2 separate regions of the Homo sapiens genome follow, and region 2 is linked to region 1. Evidence: fine-mapped expression QTL. Tissue or cell type: fibroblasts. Region 1 holds a variant in brackets; the other region holds the start of a gene. All regions are shown on one strand. Distances are from middle to middle.

What was found. PIP is the estimated chance that this variant, and not a neighbour inherited with it, causes the effect. A credible set is the group of variants that fine-mapping cannot tell apart.
Region 2: HSPA12B starts here. The variant in region 1 is the best candidate, but not a certain one, in a credible set for the expression of HSPA12B in fibroblasts (GTEx, PIP 0.84).

What each region holds. Positions count from the first base shown.
Region 1 is chr20:3,749,317-3,760,235 of GRCh38, forward strand. HSPA12B (heat shock protein family A (Hsp70) member 12B) reads left to right here. Exons shown (of 13, transcript NM_052970.5): 9 at 1-2; 10 at 434-538; 11 at 653-911; 12 at 1,488-1,591; 13 at 2,195-3,795. The coding sequence ends at 2,850. ADISSP (adipose secreted signaling protein) reads right to left here. Exons shown (of 6, transcript NM_001258429.2): 2 at 10,766-10,870; 3 at 9,220-9,362; 4 at 6,153-6,291; 5 at 5,081-5,203; 6 at 4,192-4,842. The coding sequence starts at 10,784. The coding sequence ends at 4,742. Among named protein-coding and RNA genes, the nearest start is that of ADISSP, 13 kb to the right of the region's middle. RefSeq lists enhancers at 1-29, 30-580 and a silencer at 454-683. The variant CCCCCAGCCCAGTGG/C (reference allele first, on the strand shown) is at 6,444.
Region 2 is chr20:3,730,678-3,738,506 of GRCh38, forward strand. It overlaps HSPA12B (heat shock protein family A (Hsp70) member 12B), which reads left to right and starts at 2,008. Exons shown (of 13, transcript NM_052970.5): 1 at 2,008-2,117. RefSeq lists an enhancer at 2,070-2,649.

The DNA.
Region 1 (10,919 bases):
AGGTAGGGGGAAAGGGGGACGGAGTGTTATCCTTGGCCCCTACCGGGCACCATATACTGATGGGGGGAAGGGCATGTTTGCAAAGCCCGTCTCTTCCTCCTCCATTCGCTGTACCCAACCTGGCCGTCCCCTCACAGTCACCCGCACCCCCACCCCACTCACAGCGGCGCCCCTAACTCCCACTCCTCCAGGGGATTCTCCGCGGACGCTCGGGTGGAGTTGCAGAGCCTCTGGAACCATTTCTGCCCCACACCCTGCGCCCATATGTGGTGGTCTGAGGTTCAAGCACCTGAAGCCCCTCACGTCCCTCCCCCGACCCTGCAGACAGGCCTTGGGACCCGGGGCAGGGCTGGAGGCTGGGCGAGGCTGGAGGGGGCGCAGGGCTGAGGGTGCGAGGCCGCCCACGAGTGTGTGCCCGCGCTCGCCGCCGCAGGAGACCGCTACGTGGTGGCCGACTGCGGCGGAGGCACCGTGGACCTGACGGTGCACCAGCTGGAGCAGCCCCATGGCACCCTCAAGGAGCTCTACAAGGCATCTGGTGAGTAGCCAGGCGGCGCCCCGGTACCCAGCGCGACCCGGGCTCCGGCCCCGCCACTGCCCCCTGGCGGCCCGGCGAGCGCTGACGCCCTCTTCGCCCCCTGCTCCACCCCAGGGGGCCCTTATGGCGCGGTGGGCGTGGACCTGGCCTTCGAGCAGCTGCTGTGCCGCATCTTCGGCGAGGACTTCATCGCCACCTTCAAAAGGCAACGGCCGGCAGCCTGGGTAGATCTGACCATCGCCTTCGAGGCTCGCAAGCGCACTGCTGGCCCACACCGTGCAGGGGCGCTCAACATCTCGCTGCCCTTCTCCTTCATTGACTTCTACCGCAAGCAGCGGGGCCACAACGTGGAGACCGCTCTGCGCAGGAGCAGGTGGGTCCTGAGCCCGCGGGCTCAGGCAGGGTTTGCCGACCCGGGAATGACCGTGCACTGGAGGGTCCCGGGCCCCAAGGAACGGTGGGGGTCTGCCTGATTCATCCCACATATACACTAAGCCAGCAGGGCGTCGGGGTGGGGCGGCGGGGAGCGGCGAGTGAGTGCCCCAGCCCAGCAGGCTCCACCCACGGAATCCGCAGCCCGAACTGGGGCAAGACAGAGAATCATAGCGGGGAGGCGGCAATGCCTATCTCCTCCCAGCCTTCTCTACACCCCCACCCCGGGCCCTGCGGGCCCATGCTCCTCGGTTTCCCTGCACCAAAGCAAGGGGAGGCCCCTCCCAGGACCTCGTACCTGGAACCTGGAGCAGGCTGGCAACTAAATCCTCTGAGTGAGTAGGGTGGAGATAAGGGACTAACATCCCGCAGGTCCAGTCCTCCAGACACCACGTGCAGTCGGTGCCCAGGCACTTCTGCCTGGAGGCAGAGGTAGAGAATAAGGACCACGGACCCCAAACTGGGGCAAGCAGCTGGGCCCTGACCGATGGATATTTGCCCCTTTCACCACCAACAGCGTGAACTTCGTGAAGTGGTCCTCACAGGGGATGCTCCGAATGTCTTGTGAAGCCATGAACGAGCTCTTTCAGCCCACCGTCAGCGGGATCATCCAGCACATAGGTGAGCACCTGAGCTTGGTCCCCCACCCGCCCCTACATGAACAAACAGATGCAGAATAATTCCCCCCCATCAGTGCCTAGATACCTCCACACATCCATACACTGTGATGAGACCTAGAATCATCTAGAACACCTGCGGGATGAAGTGCAGTGGTGATTAAGAGCTAGAGGGTTGATATGTAGTCTTGCCAAGGCAAAAAACTTCTGGTGCCTCAGTTTCCCCATTTATAAAATGGGGTGATAGTATTGGGTTCTCAAAACGTTATCACAGGGATAAAATGAGCTGAAGTACCTAGAGTGAGCACAATGTCTTGCACACAATGTCTAGGTGTTTAATACGTGTAAAATGCATATCCTTATCTCTCGTCCTCCACGTCGTGGTGGGAGAGAAGTGGGGAGCGTGAGTGTTGGGGAGGCGAAGCCCTCGAGGACTCCCGTGAGCTCTCAAAGAAAGTGCTCAAATGGCTACTTTCTAGTCGCCAGGTAGGTACAGGCTAGGGAGGGGAGGCGCCGGTGGCCGCCTAGTGGTGGCCTCAGTGGCTCTCTCTCCCCCGCCCCTTCTCCTCTGCCCCCTTCACCCGCGTCCCCCCGTCCTGTCCCGCAGAGGCCCTGCTGGCACGGCCGGAGGTGCAGGGTGTGAAGCTGCTGTTCCTAGTGGGCGGCTTCGCCGAGTCAGCGGTGCTGCAGCACGCGGTGCAGGCGGCGCTGGGCGCCCGCGGTCTGCGTGTCGTGGTCCCGCACGACGTGGGCCTCACCATCCTCAAAGGCGCGGTGCTGTTCGGCCAGGCGCCGGGCGTGGTGCGGGTCCGCCGCTCGCCGCTCACCTATGGCGTGGGCGTGCTCAACCGCTTTGTGCCTGGGCGCCACCCGCCCGAAAAGCTGCTGGTTCGCGACGGCCGCCGCTGGTGCACCGACGTCTTCGAGCGCTTCGTGGCCGCCGAGCAGTCGGTGGCCCTGGGCGAGGAGGTGCGGCGCAGCTACTGCCCGGCGCGTCCCGGCCAGCGGCGCGTACTCATCAACCTGTACTGCTGCGCGGCAGAGGATGCGCGCTTCATCACCGACCCCGGCGTGCGCAAATGCGGCGCGCTCAGCCTCGAGCTTGAGCCCGCCGACTGCGGCCAGGACACCGCCGGCGCGCCTCCCGGCCGCCGCGAGATCCGCGCCGCCATGCAGTTTGGCGACACCGAAATTAAGGTCACCGCCGTCGACGTCAGCACCAATCGCTCCGTGCGCGCGTCCATCGACTTTCTTTCCAACTGAGGGCGCGCCGGCGCGGTGCCAGCGCCGTCTGCCCGGCCCCGCCCTCTTTCGGTTCAGGGGCCTGCGGAGCGGGTTGGGGCGGGGGAAACGATAGTTCTGCAGTCTGCGCCTTTCCACGCCCTCCAGCCCCGGGGGAGATAAGGTCATGGGAGAGTGGGTGGGGACACACCCAGAGACTGGCTTTGGGATTGGGCACTGGTCCGCTGACTGCCAGGCTGAAGGGACCCGCCAAGGACTGAACGGGTAAGAGAAGAGGTTTGCAAGACAGAGCGCGCAGCCCGGCAAGGGGCATGTGACCCCGAAGGAAGAACGCAACAGAAGAGTCCTGGTCTGAACTTGGCCGAGTAGGGGTGGGGGTGGGATGGCAGGAGGAGCCGCAGGAGGAAGGAGGTTGTGCAGGGTCTGGACCTGCAGGGCTGAAGTTCACTCATCGACCGACTCAGCCCCAACCGGGAGCCAGGCAGAAAAACCCTGTGCCGTAGGAAAGTGACTGGAAGTGGACTCCAGAGGGACAGGTGTGGTGGCACAGTCCTGGTGTGGTGCTGACCACCCAAATATGACTGTGAATTGTGGAAAGGGCAGTAGATCTCTAATGTGGAGGTGGGAACATTATTGTGGTGGAGGCAATTATGAGGGTAGCATTTCTTTCGAGACAAAACACCCGTCTGGGAAGGCCCCAAGGTCAGCTTATGAAGGACCCCACTTGCACCCCACCCCAGCCATGGAAGAGCAGCTGGAGGGTGGATGGGGAGGCCAGAGGGAGCAATGAGGGGTGGTCCCAGCTCTGCTATTGACTCGGTATGCCTTTAGGACATTCTCTTACCGCTCATGGGCCTCAGTTTCCTAAAGTGTGAAATGTCAGGCACTTCCCTCTAACTGGCATGCAACAGCCCCACCTGCCTGAGAGCCCTGAGGTGACAATAAAACATTTATGCTCAAGGGGAAGCCACAGCCTGCTGATATGGCGTGGAGACCCTAATAGTGGGAGGAATGCAAGGGTTCCCGGTGCTAGAGAGAGAAGGGAGAAAGCTTTCAGCTGTGCATAGGGAACTGACCAGAAGGGGGTGCTGCTGTCTCCCATCAAGCATCCCAAACAACTCCACTGCTTAAGACCTCTCTGGCCTACACATGAGGTCCCTCTCTCCTCATTCAAATTAATTGTCTTGGCAGCCAGCTTCTGGCCTAAAATGCCACCACCTGTGCATACCTCTTGTGGGGCTAGGTGCTATAATACCACGCGGTGCCCCTGCCTCCTGAGTGAGTCTACCCAAGTCTTTCCCTGGCCCATCTGCAAAGGAGTAGGCATTACCCCAACCCCAGAGAACAAAAATCCACCTGGCCTCCGGTATCCACTGGAAGTTTATTTCTTTAGGGTTCTATCCCAACCAGTCGCTTAAAAACCAAGTAACACAGACCTGAGGGGTGGGGGCTGGGGACTGCACCTCCCTCCTACTCATGGTGGACAGCAGTGGGGACTAGGGAGGGGCAGGAGAGGTGGCTGAAGCAAGGCAGCAGTAATGGGGCCACGACGCCACAGAGCCAGCTCCGTCCTCTCCCAGACCCTGGTGGGAGTCCCTGTGGCTTGGGGTGGGGAGTGGGGGACCCACCCCAGGCCCTCCCTCTCCCTTCCTCAGACAGCCTCCTTTCGGGCTCAACCCATTTCTTCCGGCAGGAGACTGAGGCACACAGAGAGGAGGAAGTGGGAGAGGAGGACGAGGGAGGGGCAGGGTGGCAGCACAAATGAAGGCAGAGGTGAGAGGCGTGGGCAAGGCCACTCCACCCCCACACCCACCCCAGAGAGGGGCGAGGAAGCCACACCATCACGCAGCATGTCGGGGGGACAAGGCGGGGTTTAAGGCTGAGGGGCCCGGGGCAGGCGGGGCCTCGGGCCTCAGTCAAAGCCGTGCCAGTCGCTGTGCTCTGAGTCGTATTCCAGCTCGGCGCCCACACACTTGACACCATCCAGCAGCATGGGCGTGCCGTGGTGCCGGTCTGCAAGGCAGGGTGCAAGTCAGTGCCATGCTGGCCCCCGGCCCCACCCATGCGGCCCACTAAGGGGACCCCTCCCCTTCCCTCAGGGATCAGCTGGAGGTAGGGACCTGCCAAGGAGGTTGAGAACCCCTGAGCCGGGCAAGGATCCCTTGTTCAGCCTTGGTTCCCTGAGGAGGACAGAAACCCTCGCAGTCGAGCTTGTGCATCCCTCCTCCAACCAGGAGCCTCACGCTCTCACCCATGACGCGGGCCTGCACCGTCACGCGCACACAGGTGCCAGTGCCACCTTCGCAGGCTAGCAGTATCTCCTCTTTGAGGACGCCCTCTTTGTGCGCCGAGTACTCACACTTGACACTATAACCTGCCCGGGGACAGGGGCAATTGGTCAGCACCTCCCCCAGCCTCCCCGATCCTGCCCCTGGCACTCACGGGCCCCTACCCACCACCATGGGGGGACTGCATGCTAAGCCCCCCCAAGAAAGGGGCAGGGATGGCCCTTCTGGAGCCCAGAGACCCATTCCCCCTAGCAGGGGTGCACAGGTCTCAAAAACCCATTCTTCAGTGAGCTGGACATGCCTCCAGCCTGTGGGCCACCCCAATGTGGCTCCAAGAGTGAATGAAGTAGGGTCCAATTCAGGCTTCCAAAAGAAGGTCTGGCTGTTTTCTCCCAAAAGGAAGGCAGGGAGAGGCGGTGATGAGGAGTGAGGGGGGCAGGGCAGGGTAGGCTTTGAGCAGATCCGATGGCAAGAGGTAAAGGCCTGAGGGGTGTCAATCCATTGAAGGGCAAGGTCATGAAGAGGCTGGTGACGGGGACATGAAACTGAAGCTGGAGCTCCACGAAACTGACACCCTAGCCTCTGCCAGGCTGGGAGTGGGGCATGGGGCAGGGCCTGAAGTGAGCCTGATAGGAACAGCAGCCTGAAACCCAAGGTCTGGGACTGGTGGGTGCTAGGAGTTATCCACACGGTGTGTGTAGCTCCAGCAGGTTTTTCTAGAGGGTTAGGGAGGCAGGAGGGAAGGCTGGAGGCTTCAAACCAGTTCCTCAGCAGCTCCCATCTTGGTTACTGCCCCACGGAGGTAACCATCACACCATGGGCAGGTACAGGGAAGTATGAGCTCATGGACTTCTGTTCAGGACAGGGAGCAAGGCCTGGAGTGTGGGACCTGCCATGCTGCCACAGTGCAAGCTCACAAAGAGGTGCCACATCCCCGACTTGCTGAGCTGCCCATCCACCCTAGTTGGAAGTAAGGGAGCACCCCATGTTCTCACTCCCACACCCATCCAGGCCCTGCTGGAGGAGGGGACGCACCTTCAGGGACGGGCACCACGCTGAGGAGCTTGAGGTGCAGGCTGGGGACAGGTGCCTCGCGGACATCCTTGCTCAGCCTGTGCACTGGGGGCAGAGTGAAGGTAATCTCATACCTGTGCAGGATCTTCAGGAAGCCAACCTACAGCAGGAGAGGTGAGGGAGGGAGGCACCTTCACTTCCTGCTTCCCGCAGGCCCACCCAGTTGTGCCACCTATGATCCCATGCGCCCCAGCACCTGCTTCCCCAGAGAGCCCAGAAAGCCCAACTCCCTCCATCACTCCAGCTGATCGA[CCCCCAGCCCAGTGG/C]CCCCAGCCCTTTCACAGACCCCTTGAGGGTCCCAGCCCTACAGCTTGGCCAGCAAGATCCTCAGCATCTGTCTCACGGGCCCCAAAGTCCTCAGTGGCTCATTTCATAGACAGGAAAATGGAAACCACAAAATGACTGGCCAAAGGCTATGTAGTGTGGCCAGGGTCAAGTCCTCCCTAGACTTCTTGGCCATTCCTGCTATGCATGGCACCCAGCAAGGCACCACCCACTGCCTACAAGGGAAAGTTCAAAGTCCCATGGGTCATTCACCTGTCCCCATCACTGCCAGTATCCCAGGGTCAGGGATGCTGGTCCTCCATTCGCTCATAGGATGACACCAGGCCACAGATAGCGTGGGATGAGGGATGGGATCAAATTAGAGATATGACAGTAGACCAGCTGTGTCAGCCCAGAGCTGGCCCACAGGCCTGGCACCAGCCACTGAACTGGGGCTCCTGGCTGCCCTGCTGGCACTGGACTGGGGATGCCTGCCTGCCCACTCAAAGGCTGTGTCCAATGGCCCATACTCACGACCCAAGCAATTTCTGTTGTTCATTCACAGTGCTTGGTGACAACCACCCTCTGGGACAAATGCCATTCTTGGAAACTCCAGTAGTATGAAGGGTCACAAGCCAGGGTGGTTGCTGAGCAGGGGGGCTGGTGGGGGTGCCACGCCAGCAGGCAAAGGGTGCCTGCTGTACTCCCAGCTTGCATGGGCACACAGAGTCCTGCTCACAGTTACTGGGGCTGGGCAGCCCCATCCCTGGGGGCCAACTGGGACTGGCTGCAGAGAGTTTTAGCCATTCAATGGGACCAGGTTGATATTGCTACATGACAAACTTCAATCCATGTGCCCCCCTCATGCTCTGCTGGTAGGGGGCACATCCCTCAAGAAGGCTTTCTGGCTGTACCTGCTAACTGTGACCCTGTGACCCAGGGGTACTACTTATAGAATTTTCCAGGGGAAATAGAGATGTGCAGAAAAATACTCTTCGCTGCCCTATTTATAACAATGAAAACAAAAACAGCCGTAACACCCAGGAACAGGGAGCCAGCTAAGTCAATGATGACACGTATCATGGACCAGTAGGCAGTTGTAAAATCTCGTGGAAAATTATTTACTGACACAGGTAGGAGACAGTTCACAACAGAAGCAAGCAAAAACCAGTGTGGACACGGTGAGGCCAGCTTTTGTTTTTGGAAACAAAGCTTTTTAAAATAAGCTGGATCCATCACCATAGTGTTTTCAGAAAAATAAATAAATAAATAAATAACATTTTAAAAAGCTGGAATAAGCCAGGTGTGGTGGCTCACGCCTGTAATCCCAGCACTTTGGGAGGCCGACACGGACGGATCACGAGGTCAGGAGATCGAGACCATCCTGGCCAACAGAGTGAAACCCCGTCTCTACTAAAAATATAAAAAATTAGCTGAGAGTGGTGGCACGCGCCTGTAATCCCAGCTACTCTGGAGGCTGAGGCAGGAGAATTGCTTGAACCTGGGAGCTGGAGGTTGCAGTGAGCTGAGATGGCGCCACTGTACTCCAGCCTGGAGACAGCAAGACTCCGTCTCAAAAAGAAAAAAAAAAGCTGAAATAACACACATCAGAATATTAACCATGGTTATTTTGGGATAGTATGACTGTGGGTACTTTTAAATTTCTTCATATTTTCTCTGTCTTCCAAATTTTCTCATGTCTATTAAGACATGAGTGGATTTTGCAATGAGGGGAGAGAGCTATTTTTAAGTGTTGGTTTGTTCCATTTACTCTCTTGGGGAAGCTGTCAGCTGTAGGACAAAGAGTGGGAACTTCAGAGTTGGACAGAAATGGATACAAACCTGGGCCCCCCAGGTTCTTTTTTGTTTGTTTGTTTGAGACAGAGTCTTTCTGTTGCCCAGGCTGGAGTGCAGTGGCACAATCTCAGCTCACTGCAACCTCAGCCTCCTGGGTTCAAGCAATTCTTCTGCCTCAGCCTCCCAAGTAGCTGGGACTACAGGCGTGCGCCACCACGCTCAGCTAACTTTTGTATTTTTAGTAGAGACGGGTTTCGACCCATTGGCCAGGCTAAACCTGGGCCCCTTTTGAGCAGCGCAGCAGACCCCCCACTCAGGGCCATCTCAATGGGCCAGACCTCCCCCGACCCAAGGGCACTCCTGTTCAACTCTGGACCCCTGATTTATTGACCAACCTGAAGGCCTCAGTCTCCATTTTCCCCAATCCAGCTCCACCAAGCAGAAAACAGGGGGTGATAATACTACTTCAAAGAGCCTAACTGAGCCAGAGATTTGGCAAAGAAGGGTTAAAAAAAAAGTTGCACCTTGTTATTGCCATAGTTAGCTTCACACCTGTATCACATACATACATTCTTCCATTCTCACACCAACTCTAGGGGATGTGATTGTCTCCACTTGAGAGAAAAGAAACTCAGGTGACCTTCCCAAGGTCACAGAGCCAGAATGGCTGGCCTAGACCTGAACTCAGGCCACTGGCACCACAGCCACGACACTGCCTTCCATTGCTATTGTCTGGGTGAAGCAGATGACAGCAGTGGCTCTGCTCATCTTGATCTGGATGACATTCTAAATGCTCTCATCTCATTGAAATCTCACTGCCTCCCATCTGACAGATGGGGCAACCAAGGCACAGGGAAAGGCACAGACATGCCTATAAGCCCGGCTGAGAGGAACGGGGATAGGCACCCAGAAGCCAGGCAGAGCCGGGGAGGGGAAGAAGCTGCTGATGGGGTAGGTGTGCATGTACCTTGACCAGAAAGCTGCTGTCACTCTCCTGGGTGACCATGACCACCGAGTCATGCAGCTTCTCATCAAAGTGGACGTGGCTGTGGGATCCTTCTGCATCGTGGCCTGCCGCAAAGCGGATACTCCGGACTCTGGGCTTGTTGCCTAGGAAGAGTGGGAGAGGGCTCTGAGGGCTTTCCCTGTCCCCAGGAAACTCCTCCCCCTTGTCCCCTCGTCACCCCCAAGACTGCCCTTGACATCATCCAGCTCCCACTGGCTGGGCTCTTTTCAGGGCTAGATGGACACTAGGATCATGAGGCTTGAGGCCTCCCCGCCGGCCCCGACCTGCCCCTCCCACAAAAATCCATCCCCTGAGAGTGAGCGTGGGGGGACTCAGGGACTGGCTAATATGACCCTTGCTTGGAGGGGGTGGGGCTGGTGCCAGAGCCAGGAAGGGACAGTCTTCCAGACTCCCACCAAGCCAGGGCAGCGTGGGACTCAGCCCAGTCCTCTGGATACCCTGCCCAGTGCTCTCCTTCACAGTGCAAAGCTCCCCATCCCTGGGGCCTACCCCTAAGCTGTGTCAGTGCATGAGGCCCCTGCCTGCCCATCCTCATGACCCAAACCTGAAAGGGCAGGGACAGGAACAGGCTCTGGGGGATCTGCCTGGGGTGGCAGAAACAGGGGGGATCAAAAAACACACTCAGGCCACCTGGGCGAGGCTGCAGCTGCCAGTAAACCTCACTGGCCCCTGGCAGCAAGAAGAGAGAATCCAAGGAAGCTTCCAGACCCACCTCAAGACCCCCTTCCTTCCTCTGTCTAGCCCACCATCAAGGCCCTCAGCTGTCTCTGAGCTGGGTCGGGTTCTCCAAGGCCAGAAAGGGCAGACGGATGAGACAGGCAGGGTAGGCGGGAGCCGAGCTGAAGGCCTGGACTGGATGAATGCTCAGGCTGTAGAGGCCGAGAGCACGGCCCTAGTCCTCTCTGACCCCTGGCCCCTAGGCCCTCCCACCAAGAGCCCTGCCCAGGGTCCTCTTGGCGGGAGGACCTGATCCAGCTTTGAGCCGGCCTCTTGGATACTCGGAGGCCCAGGGGACCAGCCTGGCACATCCACAATCCCTGGTGAGCCCCACAGAACCCTCAAATCTCACCAGATCACCCTGGCCTAAAACCCTCCCTTATCCCTTCTGGACTCTGAAAGAAACCCAAACTCCCTTCCACAGCCTGCTGTGGCCCTCCCACATCACCAGTCTCAGTGCTCACCATAAGCCCCTCGGCTCCCCCAACCCCCACAGTGGAACGGCAGGGACACAAGAGCACACACCTCCACAGACCAGCCTAAGGAGTCAGCAGGGCTCTGCAGGGGTCCTGCTAGGGCTTGCGTGAGCCCCAGAACCTGGCACAAACACTGACATAGTCCCAATCACATTCGCACACCAGCACACACGCACTCACACATGCACACACACACACACAGGTGGTGCGGGCCCTACCTGCAGCAATGGCCCTCCTACCAGGGCCCACCGGAAGAGCTTGTGCAAGTCCTACCACGCCAGGAAGGCACTTACCCTTGTTGGCTGCAGCCATGGACGCCCTCCCTGCCACGCAGCTCCTGCCAGACACCGCCACTCACGCTCAGCAGCCTCCCATGCTCCAGGGACACCAGCGGGAGCCTGAAGGATAGGGAGTGGGGAGGGCAGGGGTCAGGGCCACTCATGGACC
Region 2 (7,829 bases), 20 kb before region 1:
ATGAGTCTTCACCCCTGCTCAGAGCCTGCTGCCGTGGCCCTCAGAGACGAGCCCATCTTTGGAGCTGGAGTTGGGGACAGGGAAACCAGGTGGAAGGGAAAAAGAAAAAAGGGGCAGGCATGAGTGTGAGGGGCCAGACCCTGCAGACCCCAGGACATGCACAGCAGACACACACTCCAATCCCTCCTGGCTCTGCTCAGCCTCAAACGAGGTGCAGGCCTGCAGGCCCCAACCAAGGACCCCTGTTACACACAGACACAAAGACACAAGATGCAGCAACACACACACGTAATACAGAAACACAGTCACACACTAGCGCACACACAGACACAGTCAGACAATCCAAGAAACACACTCACACATGAACAGACATATAAGCAAAGTCTTACACATACAAAGACACACTTAAGCACAGACACAAACACACCAACAGATGCACAGACGGACACACATAGACGCACACTGGGAGGCGGCCTGTGGAGACTGCTGATTGGATACCATGTTGGCTTGGTATCCAGAATTGTTGGTGCAGCGCACTCACCATGCCTGACCTCATTAAGGAGGCCCTCTGGGGCAGTGGCTCTGAGAAGAAAGGCAGCAAGCCTAGGGAGGTGACACTGTAGCTGGGGAGCATTTTGGCTGGGCAGAGAGGAGGAAGGAGAGCATTTCAGGGAGGGAAAATAGCCCTTGCAAAGGTTTGGAGTGGAAGAGCAAAAGGGATGTCCCAAGAACTGTGCCTCATTTGATGGGGCTGTGGGGCCCTTCTCTGACGGGCAGCCTTCCCAGGCACAAAGGGAGGTGGACTGAGAAGCATCTGGAACTTCTGTGGGGGCACATGGGGCAGAGGGGAAGGGGAACAGGCAGAACGAGTCAGCTGCCTTTGAAAGCTCCACGAGGGACCTAGCAGAAATTCATTCATTCATCCGTTCATTCATTTATTTATGACAGGTTCTCTCTCTGTCACCCAAGCTGGAGTGCGGTGGTGTGATCACACTTACTGCAGCCTCAAACTCTTGGGCTCAAGCAATCCTCCACCCCAGCCTCCTGAGTACCTAGGACTACAGACGTGAGCTACTACACCTGGCTAATTTTTAAAACTTTTTAGAGACAGGGTCTCCCTTTGTTGCCCAGGCTGGTCTTTGTTGCCCAGCCAGCTTCAAGCCATCCTCCCACCTCAGACTCCCAAAGCGCTGGATTACAGGCATGAGCCACGGGTTCCCAGCCCAGAAAGAGACCTTCACCCCACAAACCCCCTGTCTGGAGGCCAAGTCCCAGCATCCCCAGAAGGGCCCCGGTTAGGACAAGAAAAAGGCTGTGTGCCTCGGAGGAGAGGCTGGGTGCCCCCTGGTGCGGAGTGGTCCCCTTGCCGGGCATGGGGCCTCAGTCTGTGAGACTCCGCGCCTCCGTCGTCTGAACTTGAGCAAAGACAGAGCTAGGCCTAGCCTGGGGACCCGAGGGCCTGCCCTCATCCGCAATTCTGCCTCTTTTCTGGCCACTGAGGACCGGGCTAGGGAAGCTGTAGGGGCAGTAGGGGTGGGAGGAGAGAGGGTTCCGGGTCAAGGGACTGGAGGGGTCTGGGGCAGGGAAGTGGAGGGGTCTAGGGCGGGCCCTTCCCCCTCCGCTGTTGGGCCCTCGCTGAAGGGGCCGAGGCTGAGCCCCAAGGTGGGCCTGTGGGGGCGGGGCGGGGGAGCCCCTCAGCAGCTGGACCGCAGGAGGCCGACCAGGGTCTGGAACTCCTCTTCCCCTCCCTCCGCCGCCCCCTCTCCCTTCTCCCACCCCCTGGGCTGCTAGGGGAGCGGGGGAGGCGCAGGAGGGGCTCAGGGAGGGGCCCTGGACGCGGGACCAGGCTGGGCCCCTCGGCGGAGGCCCGCGCAGGCAGGCCCCGCCCCGGCCTCGCACATCTGGGCCGGGAGCGCGGGCCGACCCGGCGGCGCAGGCGGCGCGGCCATCCGGCCTGGGGGAGGGGGCGGCGGGCGGGGTGGGCGGCGCGAGGAGGCGGGAGGCCTCAGGGCCGGGCGCACGTCGAGGGCTGCGGCCGCCGCAGCGGGCACGGCCAACGAGCTGCGGGCCCGGGATCGCGGCGGCTGGACGGGGCTGGAGCTGTCGGGAGGGCGGAGGTGAGTTCTGGGGCGGGGGCTGCCGGGCGCCCCGAGTGGAGAAAGGCGAGGAGGTTTGCCGTCCCGGGCTGTCGGCTGAGACCCCACCAAAAACCTCCAGACTTTGTCTGGTGGGGACAGATCTGCAAGCCCCTCTCTGCAGCGTGGCTGCGGGCTCGGGAAGGCACTTGGGGCAGCGACCTTGGTCTCCCACCTGGGCTTCGGGGGACCACCTCCCCTGTCCCTCGCACAGCTGCTCAGAGGCTTAGGCTGGAGAAACTCCTGTGTCTTAGGGGCTGGCAGGACTGGTGTGGGCTGGGGCCTGCTCCAGGGAGCCAAACTGAGGGACCCGGTGCCTAGGTCTGAGGTGGAAACCTGGGAGTTGAGTGTATGTGTGTGTGTTGGGGGGTGCCTCAGGGGTCCCAGGCCCTGTGGTCCCGAAGCGCAACAGAGTACTGAGTGGCCCAGGTGCCAGGGTCTGAGGCTGGGACCTGGTCTTCCGGGCCAGCTTGAGGTCCAGGTGGGGTGGGGTCCAGGTTCCCGCTAGGGCAGTGGAGCCTATCTGTGAGGTTAGCGTGTGTTGATGAGAGAGACTGGAAGGGAGTGATCACGAAACTAGGGACCCTCCGGAGAGCAGACGCAGCGCAGGAATCCCAGGCCAGAGGGGTAATGGGGGGCTGTGGGCAGAGCATGGGAGGGGCTCTGTTGTTTGTGAACTGGCTGCTCCCATGATGAGGACCCAAGGGGGTGCGGCAGGATGTATGGAAAGCAAAGATGAGGACAGGGAGGGGCCATGGGAGGCCATTTCTGTCACTCCCTGCCCCAGCGCAGGATGGGGCAGCCACCTCACTCAGCCACACATGGTCCCATCTTCTTAAGGGCTCCTCTCCAGAACAGAGTGGGGCAGCCCTTTGGGTGCCGTTTCTGATCTGTGCTTTGGGCCCTGGTTGGCCCAGTCTGTGGCTTGGAAGAAACGCCTGTGGCCTCACTTAGCCCGCTGACGGAGTCCTGTTCCATTACAGGGCTGGCTGGGTGCTGAGCAGAGAGCAGCAGGCGGAAGAGGCAGGGTCCTAGTGAGGAGGGGAGCTGGAATGACCTGGGTGGGCTCTTTGTCTACACAGGCATCGTGTGGAGCCCTGAAACCCAGAACACTGCATTCCCATAGTGCTCCTGGGGACATGAGCGCCCAGCTGAAACACCCCACACAGGAAGAGATCCTCCGAGGATTCTGTCAGGCAAAGGGTTGGGCCCCTGCAAGGTGGCTCACGCCTGTAATCCCAGCACTTTGGGAGGATGAAGTGGGAGGATCGCTTGAGGCCAGGTGGTCGAGGCTGCAGTGAGCCGTGATCGTGCCACTGCACTCCAGCCTAGGCAACAGAGCAAGACCCTGTCTCAAAAAAAGGAGCGGGAGTGGGGGCAGGGTTCGTCCTAGGCTATTGTAAGACCAGGGGATACTCTGGGATGGGAGTCTCTGGTTGTGAGTTCCTGCTGGGCCACACCCTATCCTGGTCCCCAGTGACTAATCGGCCCTGCCTATTGGGTAGAAGTCAGGGCCAGGGGTCAGGGTGAAGCTGATGACTAGAGGTCAATATGAAGCCAAGAGTTAGGGGTCAGTCCATGGGCAGGGTTAGGGATCAGGCTGGGGCCAGAGTTTGGCATGTGCTTGTAGCCAGGAAATGGAGTTCCTTTCTGTGTAAATCAAACTGTCCCACTCAATTACTCTCAAACCCATAGGCACCACCAGTCTGAAATTAGTAGGCCCCTGAAGCGGGGCTCAGCCTCCCCTCATTTTCAGCTGTGGACTCTGCCCAGACCTAGCTTTCGGGAGCTGGGCTTGTCCCGTGTTCTGTGGTCAGCACTCTCCTTAAGTGTCCCTGGGTGTGTGTGCTCGCTTGGCAGTCAGCCACCTCTTGGCTTACCTCCACCTCTCGGGGAATCCGTGGGATCCTCCTTCTTTAACACAATTTTTTTTTTTTTTTTTTTGGAGACAGGGTCTCACTCTGTCACCCAGGCTGGAGTGCAGTGGTGTGATCATGACTTACTGCAGCCTCAACCTTCCGGGCTCAAGCAATTCTCCCACCTCAGCGTCCAAAGTGGCTGGGACTCTAGGCATGCACTACCACGCTGGGCTAATATTTGTATTTTTCGTAGAGATGGGGTTTTGCTGTTGCCCAGGCTGGTCTCGAACTCCTGAGCTCAAGCAATCCACCCACTTTGACCTCCCAAAGTGCTAGAATTACAGGCATGAGCCACCACACCCAGCCCTTAACACAGATTGATTTAGTTCCTACCTCCTTCCTTAAAGAACTCATGATGACTAGAATGCGATTCTCAGTAAGACCAAAATATCTAACAAGAAAATTCAGAATCTGCATCATGAAGGGAAAGAACACTGCTCAAACCTGCCCAACTCCCTGCTTTTATCAATACCTTGCATATCTGGACTTGTTAACATAAGCCCTCTGTGTCACCCATTCTACAGGAAAGGGCACTGAGGCACAGAGATGTGGCATGATGCACTCACGCTAGGTGCCATAATAGGCTCTTGCCATCCCTGAAACCCCAGCATAGGGGCACTCAGCATATCGCACAATGAGAGACGGTAGATAACTGGACAAGCTTCCGATAGCTGGGAAGAGTATAGGCCCATGGTTTGGATGTGGAATCCAGTGTAGAGCGAGGACTCAGTCTTTTTTTTTTTTTTTTCTTGAGATGGGGTCTCACTCTTCTCGCCCAGGCTGGAGTGCAATGGCGCGATCTTGGCTCACTGCAACCTCTGCTTCCCAGGTTCAAACGATTCTCCTGCCTCAGCCTCCTGAGTAGCTGGAATTACAGGCGTCTGCCACTACGCTTGGCTAATTTTTGTATTTTTAGTAGAGACAAGGTTTCACCATGTTGGCCAGGCTGGTCTCGAATTCCTGACCTCAGGTGATCCACCTGCCTCAGCCTCTGAAAGTGCTGGGATTACAGGAGTGAGCCACGGCGCCCGGCCCAGAGTCTTTTTTTTCTGGTGGTTCTAGGTTGTTTCTCCTCCAGATACAATAGCCTCGGTCCAGAAAATCCATTCATTCATTCAACAAAGTGGTTCCCCAGTGCTTAGCACAGAGCCTGGCATGAAGAATCTCGATAAGTGTTTGCTGAAGAATCAGAACAACATACAAATAAGGCTGCCAGCTCCTCCCTCGAGACCTTGATCCAGTAGTATGCTGGTTAATGGTTTCCAATCAGCTCTGGAAGAAGGATAAAATCCTGATTTATGGTGTTTGCCAATTTCTGTCTTGTAAATACTCCCAGCCATGACTGATTTGAAGCTACCAATGTGATGTCATTGAATGCAGAATTGGGAAGAGATAGAAAGAATCAGCTCGCATGAGCTGGTGGGACCCAGCTCAGCATCCCACTCCATCATCCTGAGCTGGGCTCTGGGCTCCTGCCCCTGGCTCCTAAGAACCCTCCCCTCCCCCTCTCTGTGCTTTCCCTTTTCTCCTCAACAGCCAGCTGCTATATGCATGCCCACAACCAGCACCCATCCTTCTTCTGATTCTGATTCCTGAGCATCCAACTCCAATGGTACAGAGGACAGCAAGAGTGTCTGGAAATCTCCATGGTGCTGGCCATGCAGGAGAATCCTGGACATACAAGAGTGTGTGGGAGTCCAGGTGTCTGTCCACAATGGGGCTGGTTTGTGTGAACTGTGTGAGCAAGGGTGTGTGCATGTGTCTATGGGCATGCCAGAGCCAGCTCTGTGTCTGCCTGTGTTCTATAGCAAAACTTTCAGATTGGGCCGCTGGTGACAGAGAAGGAATGCATTGGCCCTGCGTAGCCTCCTCCTTTGTTTAGAGGAGCAGCCAGGCCCACCAATGAGAACATAGTGTCAGTGGTCTGCAGACTGGCTGAGAGACACTGTTGAGCAACACTTCTCAAACTTCAATGTGCACCTGAATCACCTGGGAATCTTGTTAAAATAGGCCAGACGCGGTGGCTTACGCCTGTAATCCCAGCACTTTGGGAGGCTGAGACGGGCGGATCACCTGAGGCCAGGAGTTCGAGACCAGCCTGGCCAATATGGTGAAACCCCGACTCTACTAAAAATACAAAAATTAGCCAGGCATTTTTAGGTGGCATTTTAGGCAAATTAGGTGGCGCATGCCTGTGGCCCCAGCTACTTGGGAGGCTGAGGCAGGATAATCACTTGAACCCAGGAGATGGAGATTGCAGTGAGCTGAGAACTGAGATCACGCCACTGCACTCCAGCCTGGGGGACAGAGTGAGACTCTGCCTCAAAAATAAATAAATAAATAAATAAATAAATAAATAAATAAATAAATAAATATGAAATACATGTTCTGATTCAGCAGGTCTGGGCTGGGGCCTGAGGTTCTGCATTTCTAACAAGCTTCCAGGTGATACCAATGCTGCTGATCCTCAGCCCACACTTTGAGTAACAAAGCTGTTGATGGTTTGAAATATCCTGCCTATAGCCTGGCCCCAGAACTTCATAGACAGGATCGAGCCCCTCCCATCTTAGAAAATAAATATTCTTCCTCACCTCCCTTCAGCTTTAGCGCCCTCCAACTACTGCCCTCACATGTATTCCTGATTTCAGCCAAGCTTTTCAGAAATTCTAGCTCAATATGATTGCGTCACTACACTCCAGCCTGGGCAACAGAGTGAAACTCCATCTTAAGAAAAGAAGTTCTAGCTCATGTCACCTCTTGCTCACTCCTCACCTAAGCTTACCTCCCTTGGGCCACTAAAACAGTGTTTCCAGTCTCATCTGGGGACCTTTTACAGGGATCTAGCTTTACCCATCTCTTGGTACAATCTTCATGAGACCATGAGGCATCTCAGTCTCCTGGGCCGGTATATATTCCTCTGTTCAGCCTTTAAATGTAGGTTCTCCTCGTGACAGAGTGACACCCTATCTCAAAACAAACAAACAACGAAGGCCAGGCACGGTGGCTCATGCCTGTAATCCCAGCACTTTGAGAGGCCGAGGTGGGCGGATCACCTGAGGTCAGGAGTTCGAGAACAGCCTGGCCAACACGGCGAAACCCCGTCTCTACTAAAAATACAAAAATTAGCTGGGCATGGAGGCACTCACCTGTAATCCCAGCTACTGAGGAGGCTGAGGTAGGAGAATGGCTTGAACCTGGGAGGCAGAGGTTGCAGTGAGCCAAGATCGTGCCACTGCATTCCAGCCTGGGCAACAGAGTGAGACCCTGTCTCAGAAAAAAGAAAAGACAAATTGAGTCATGCCCCCACCCCACCCTGCCACCTCAAACCTTTCAAGATTTGCTGTTGCCCTTCATATAAAATCAAATCTGAAATAGGGTGCACAGGCCCTGCCTGCAGGGTAAGCCCAGCCCAGCCCTCTGTCCAGACTTACCATGTCCTCTTCCCACCCCGCATTATCCAACTTTGACCTTCCTAGCACTCAGCAACGCTTGTCATTTCAAAATCACTTGCCTGATTATCTCCTCCATCAGACCGTTGGTTTCTAGGGCAGGGACAGTGTCTCTCTGGGTCACTATCTCCCAGCACCTGGCACAGAGCAGGCACCAGAAAACATTTAGGAGGATCCTGATTCCAAGAAAGTAAAGCCATTTTTTGACACAAGCTGGGAACTGTGGGACTTTAGATGAGATTTAAGGAATTACTGTTAATTTCATTAGACATGAGAATGGTGTTGCGATGACATTGTTTAAAACGTCTTTATCTGTTGGAGAGATG